2 separate regions of the Homo sapiens genome follow, and region 1 is reported to be linked to region 2. Evidence: microRNA targets listed by miRTarBase, many of them from high-throughput screens and not tested one by one. Region 2 holds a microRNA gene; the other region holds the end of a gene's coding sequence.
What was found. Region 2 holds the annotated microRNA hsa-miR-196b-3p (UCGACAGCACGACACUGCCUUC, at 2,129-2,150, opposite strand). A microRNA usually pairs through its seed, bases 2 to 8, with sites in the 3' UTR of a target mRNA and lowers its output. Matches are read on the target gene's strand: a 7mer-m8 pairs with bases 2 to 8, a 7mer-A1 pairs with bases 2 to 7 and ends in A, and an 8mer does both.

Region 1: the mRNA of CERS1 is a reported target of hsa-miR-196b-3p. Seed matches in the 3' UTR shown: 7mer-m8 at 993-999.

Annotation. Positions count from the first base shown.
Region 1 is chr19:18,867,803-18,870,802 of GRCh38, forward strand. It overlaps CERS1 (ceramide synthase 1), which reads right to left. Exons shown (of 8, transcript NM_021267.5): 7 at 2,181-2,817; 8 at 743-1,588. The coding sequence ends at 2,775. It overlaps UPF1 (UPF1 RNA helicase and ATPase), which reads left to right. Exons shown (of 24, transcript NM_002911.4): 24 at 1-428. GDF1 (growth differentiation factor 1) reads right to left here. Exons shown (of 8, transcript NM_001492.6): 7 at 2,181-2,817; 8 at 743-1,588. The coding sequence starts at 2,505. The coding sequence ends at 795. Among named protein-coding and RNA genes, the nearest start is that of CERS1, 27 kb to the right of the region's middle.
Region 2 is chr7:27,167,365-27,170,509 of GRCh38, forward strand. MIR196B (microRNA 196b) reads right to left here and starts at 2,199; the gene lies at 2,116-2,199. The region is part of intron 1 of HOXA10-HOXA9 (HOXA10-HOXA9 readthrough); the gene reads right to left. HOXA10-AS (HOXA10 antisense RNA) reads left to right here and starts at 1,535. Exons shown (of 3, transcript NR_046609.1): 1 at 1,535-1,629; 2 at 1,943-2,400. RefSeq lists enhancers at 1-30, 1,220-1,810, 1,811-2,401.

The DNA.
Region 1 (3,000 bases), not on the chromosome of region 2:
GGCCAGGCCTCCAGCTTCCCCTGCCCCGGGCCTGGGGCTGTCACTGGCCCTGATCCGAACACCTCCAGATTCCGGCTTCTACATGGGACAGACGGGGACGCACAGGCCACCTTCCTTCTGGCAGGGACTCTTATTTATTCCCATTGCTCTAGGGCTTTCGGTTTCCCCTTCTTCCGGTAGGCCGCGTAGAGGCATGCACCGGGTAGGTTTCCGCGGTGACCCCGCGGCGGCCTGAGGGACGCTCCCTGCCCCATCCCGGCTGTTGGGCTGGGCCGCTTTGCCTCTGCTTCGCCCTGTGCTGTGTTCTCCAGCTTTGTAGCAGCAGCCTTGACAAACCCAGGCGCACTGTACCAAGGCAATGTAACTTTTGATTTTCGGTCAATTTAAGTTCTTTTGTCACCAAATATTAATAAACAGTTTTGACTTCACACCAAGGTTGGATAAACTGCAGGGGGTGGAGGGTGCTGGGGTTTTGCCTTGGCTGAGTGACGGGTTGGGGTGTGAAGGAGGCCAGAGGGAGACAGGCAAAGCCCAGAAGGGACAGGTCTGCCTTGCAGGACTGAAGGGCGACCCCTGCCCCTGGGCCCTTCCCGTAGGCAGCACCTGGGCCTGTCCGGGCGGCTCCCCGGAGTGGCGCGTTAGGCCTCTGGCAGGTGGCCTGGAGGTGGAAAGGCCTATCCGATCACCAAGACTGAGGGGCGCCCTCCCCACCACCCAGGCAAGGAGTCCAAGGAGACCAGCGGAGCAGACCACGCGGCATTTATTGTTGGGCCCGCGTCCCTGCCCGCCCCGGGTTAGCGGCAGCCGCACTCGTCCACCACCATGTCCTCATACTGCCGCAGCACCACGTTGTCGCTGTTGTCAAAGAAGAGCACGGAGATGGGCGACAGGCGCGCGGGCACGCAGCAGGGCAGGTCGGCGGCTCCCGGGGCGGCCGCGTGCATGAGCGCGCGCAGCACAGCGTGGTTGAGCGCCGGCGGCCCCCCGGACCCCGACAGCGCGACGGGCAGCGCGCACTGACCCTGGCAGTAGTTGGCCAGGAAGCCGCGCGGCGCGATGACCCAGCGGTGCCAGCCCACCTCGCGGAAGCTCACGTACAGCCGCCGCGCGCGACAAGCGCCCCCGGGGCCGCCGCCCAACACGGGTTCGGCGTCGCGCCGCGGCCGGGCCAGGGGGTGGCACAGGCGCGGGTCGAGGGTCACCAGCAGCAGCGAGGCCTCGGCCAGGCGCGCGCAGGCGGCAGGGGCCCGGGGGCGTAGCGCCAGCGCCAGGCGGAGGCTGCGCGGCCATGAGGCGTTGCGAGCCCAAGCGGCGCCCAGCAGCTCCGCGCGCACTGGCGGCCCCAGGGCGGGCACCAACTGGCGGAGCAGCACCGGCCCGGGGTCCGCGCCCGCGCCCTGGCCCGCTTGCGCCACGCTCAGCTCCCAGCCGCCCTCCGGGGCTGCCGCCGCCGCCGCCGCGAAACGCAGCTCCAGGCGGGCCCGGCTCGGGCGCTCAGCGGGTTCCACAGCCGACAGGTCGAAGACGACTGTCCACTCAGGGCAATGCCCCGCGGCCGAGGCAGGCTCCGAGGCCCGGGTGGGCGCACCTGGGGAGGTAGGAACAGGAACTCGGCTCGCGCTGCGTCCCCGGCCTGCCCATGGGGTCTCGGTTAGGGACAGGGAGGAAGGTGAACGCTGGGGCTCGGGGCGCACCGTCTGTGGGAAGGGTGTGAAGCGGCGGGGTGGGCTGATGGAGTGGGGGCAGGGCATGAGTTCCAAGGAAGGCGCCCTGCGGGGTGCGGCGGGGGGGGTGGGCTGCCCTCGGCGGGGGGCATAGGAGGAGGGGTGGCCGAAGTGGGAGACATGAGCCAGAACCTGGGCCCCTGGGGAAGCCATGCTAGGGTGTGGGGATGGCATCTGCAGGAAGGCATTAGTGTCAAGAGGTGGGGGTGGGCATGGGGTGGGGACAGGGCTTCAGCATCAAGCAGAAGGACTGGTCTTGGGAACCCCCTGACATGTGTCCCCGGCGTGCAGCAGATGACGAGGAAAGGGTGAGGTGCGGTGGCCGAAGTTGCTAGTAGCCTGGACAGGGCGGGTGGGGACCCTCGGAGCTGCTCGGGCATCCCCGGGCCACTCTCGAGGCTCGCCCTGCGAGGTCTGGCCTCCAGGACCAGTGTCCCCAGCGAAAGCCCCACTCACCGCGGTCCGGGATGTGGCGCACGATGTTTCCGGCGACCCCCAGCTCCTCCACGTGGCACGGTTGCAGGGTGACCCCTGGGGACGTCCGCCGCGAGCCAGACCTGGTCTCCTGGGGGTCCCGGCGTCGAAACAGGCGCCACATGACCGGGGGAACCGGCCGGAGCCTGGGGGCACCCTGGGGCTCATCGCGCAGTCCTAGAGCCTGGAGCAGGGCGGCGGCTGGGCCTGGGGGCACGGGGGCGCGGGTCAGGGGCAGCGAGGGCAGCAGCAGGGCCAGGAGGAGGAGGAGGTGGTGGCCGCAGGGACCTTGCTGCGGCGGTGGCATCTTCCTCCCAGGCGATGACCAGAGAGTGCGCAGGGTCCGCGGCGGCCCGGGACCAGTGGGCTGAGGGCGGGGCCGGTGTCCCCGGAGGGGCAGGGGTCCTGGGGGGCGTGGCCGGGAACTGGAGGCAGGATGAGGGGGCGGGGTCCCAGGGGAGGTGGCGGCGGCCCTAGAGGAGCAGAGTTGGAGGGGGTGGAGGGGCGGCCAAGGACGGGGAGCGTGGCCGGGGTATTCGGGGTGGGGCCGGGTCCACGGGGGCGGGGCCGAGGGGTTCAGAAGCGCTTGTCCTTCACCAGGCCGTTCCTCAGTGGCTTCCTGGGGGTCAGAACCGGCGCAGGTTAGCCTGGGAGCCCCACGCGGCCGCCTGGCCCTCTTTCCCGCTTCTTCTCTGGCCGTTTCACACCCCCTGGCTCCTTTTACCCGGCCAGGCCCGGGCCTCGCCTTGTGGCTTCCTCCTCGCCTTCACCCTGCCCCTCCTTGCCTTCACCCTGCCCCTCC
Region 2 (3,145 bases):
ATGGCCCCGTCCTGTCCGCCTCATCTCCCTCCCCCTAATATTTTCCTTGCCCCATAAATTCCTCTAGGTCATGCCCACCCCCACCACAGTCCACCGTGTCCTAAATACCCCGCAGTCCGCCAGGCCTCTGAGATTTTCATTTAAAAAATTAACCCTGGAGGAAACCCTGGCTCCCAATTTTAAGTGTCTGCAAATGGGCTGGGCATGTCTGGATGCCTTTTCCACGTTTTATGCCTGAGAAGACACTGATTATTTCAGTATTTTTTAAGTAAAAAAGCTGTTCCTTTAAACAGCCTTAGCCCCAAAATAAGAGAGTTACTGAACAATTAGCAGGCGTTGAGTGTTAAGCAGATGTTACTGGTGCCTAGAAAGCGGAGAAAAATCAGAAAACCAAATATTGTCTTCCTTCAGCCCAAAGGTTTGGAGCCAGAATAGTCTGACTTTTTTGTCTGCTTTTATTTTCGAAGTGAAAGAGATTGCGTATGCATAAAGAAATAATAAATGAGTATAATTTAAAGCGGCCCCTTCTCGACTGAGATTTCTGAAACTGTGATCTCTGAAATAAATCCAATGCCCTGGTCCAGAAAATGGCAGGGAGGAGTTGAAGGGAATGGGGTGTGTGGTCCTTTCAGACAGCAGGTCGGTGGCTGTGCAACGAAAGAGTTCCTGGGCCTCCAGTCCAGGCAGGGAAAGGAAACAGCTTTGTGGGCACGAATCTGTAACTGTGTGTGTTGGGAGTAGGGAGAGATAGTTTGTTTTCTGTTTTCTGTAGGGAAAATGGTCAGACTGGCTCCCATCTGTAGACTACAATTTGGAACGATGACTCAAGTTTATATCAATGGCTCTGGAATTTGGGATTCTTTTTGCCCATTTAAAACATACTGGCTCTTGGAAGGGTCCCCTTCTCCAGCACCCAGCTGCACAAAGGTGCTGTATGGAACATATTTTGTACCTAATGGAAGCCACTAGTAAGCAAGCAGTCAAGCTTTGCCCTAGCCAGTCTCCCTCAATGCGGTCAAACCCCAAGCTGTGACCGGCAGGCCGGGAAGAGCCAGCTAAGAGCTTCCCAGCGAATGGCCAGGCTCCAGCGAGGCTGGTTGGGCCTCAGCTCCAGTCCCCAGTGAGGCTGGCGAAGGCCTCCCTGCCCTCGATATGGGCACACAAAGCTGCAGCGAATGTCCCCTAATCAGATCTCCTAGTCAGCCGTTAGCGACAGGCGAAGAAACGCAAGGCTGCCGCCATCCGGTCGTGATCATAACCGAGGCCTTGTCTGCAGAGTAACACACCAGGCCCAAACCCACCGCCCTCGGCAGCCGCCCCACGCGGGCCCTTCCTCGGCAGACTTCCCAACCTCTACTTGAGCCGCAGAGGAAAGTGAGACCCCCTAGGCTCTCCTGAAGCCAGCTCTGGGCCCCTCCCCAAGGATGCTTTGGGAAGGAGATAAGGAGGTGAGATAGAATCTGGCAGAGACGGAAGATGAAAAAAAGACCAACGGAAGAAAAGAAAGCAGGAAGGAGCAAAGGAAAGAAGAAAAAAAGAAAGAAGAGATAAAAGAGGAAGGGAAGACAGGGAAAAGAAGGAAGAAAAGAGAGGCGACTCCTAGCAGCGGCCGAGCTTACAGAGAGAAGGGTAAGTGACAAGGCCAGGATCCCAGCCTGCCCTATCCTTCCTAGTCCAGCCTGAGTCTCCACTGGAAGGAGGTTCTTTCCTGAGCTCACACCCGGGACTGGTGTGTGTGTGTGTGTGTGTGTGTGTGTGTGTGTGTGTGTTCCAGCCTTACAAGAGAATGGCAGGAGGTCCCTGGGCAGGCGCAGGCCTCCAGTGGGAGGCTCAGGATGGAAGCGGGCGCCCCTGACCTTGAATGGCCCAAAGCCCAGAATTCCTACCACGCCCCCGGCGTCCGCGAAGGAGCAGCCAACCTAACCCTACCTGCTGTGACCAGGTGGAGGTGTGTGGTGGAAGGGGAAAGCCGGCCGGCTGGCAAAGCGCTGCGGAGAAAGACACGAGGCTCCTGAGCAGGGAAAGCCGAGGTTGCCACCGCAGGCCTGGCACGACCAGGGCCGTGATGCCCCGCCCGGCCCGACCCCCGCGCGCAGAGGTACCTGGAGACGATTTCAACTGAAGTAATGAAGGCAGTGTCGTGCTGTCGAGAGAAAGGTGGATCCCAACAACAGGAAACTACCTAAATCACCGACCAGTTCTGGTGCTGCCCGCGAAGGGCTGCCTCGCCCGCCGCCGCCGCCGCCTCCGCCGCTGCCGCCGCCGCCAAGGAGAGAACCCTGCCATCGCGCCTGGCCCGGCCCAGCCCAGCCCCTAGGCAACCTGCGCCCGCCAGTGCAACAGAGTGCCCCAGGCGGCCGCAAATGCGTCAAGGAAGGGGAAGCCACAGGCCCCAGTAAGGTATTCCTGGGAGGGAGAGGGAGGAAAAGAGAGGGAGGAAAGGCAGGGAGAGAGGAATAAAGGCGGGGAGCAGGCGAGACGAGAGCAGCTCCGAGAAGCAGTGTGCGCGCCGCTTTCCCAAATCTTGCAGCCCAGCGAGCCGGCGCCAAGAGGCGGTAGCCGTGGAAGGCTCGAAAGCGCCAGGGACGGTACAGATCCCGGCTCCCTGTCTGGCCCCGGCCTCCCGCCTCTCGCTCTCCCCCTCTCCCTCCTAGCTGCCCGCCCGCCGGGGCGCGCGCTCCTGCGCCCCCTCCCCTTAGCCCCCGCCCCCCCCACTCTGGCAAGCAGGAAACGCGTGGCCCTAAGGAGTGCCGCCAGGTGGGGGAGGCCGTACTGGGGGAGGGGGAGGCCCCCATGCAGTCCAGCCCGGGTCCACCTAACCGCTGCCTCCAGCGGCTAGAGATGCGCTGTGGGCCAGGCCTGCTCCCCGATTCAGATTGAGGGTCATCTGTGACCCAGACACCCGCAAAATAACCGGCCTCTGCAAGCCTCCCTGGGGCTCCCGAAAGAAATCCTGTTTGGCTTCCTCTGTCTATGTAGCTCCCCTCTCAACTGAAATCACTGGTCCAAGACAGCCACAATCCAGATATACTAGCAAGCCATAAAACTGAACAAAAGCCGACAAACCTTACGGCACCAGGGCTATAGGGCCCAGACAAATTACGACCGTCTAGGTAATATTTAAATAGATGCCTAAAGTAATTGC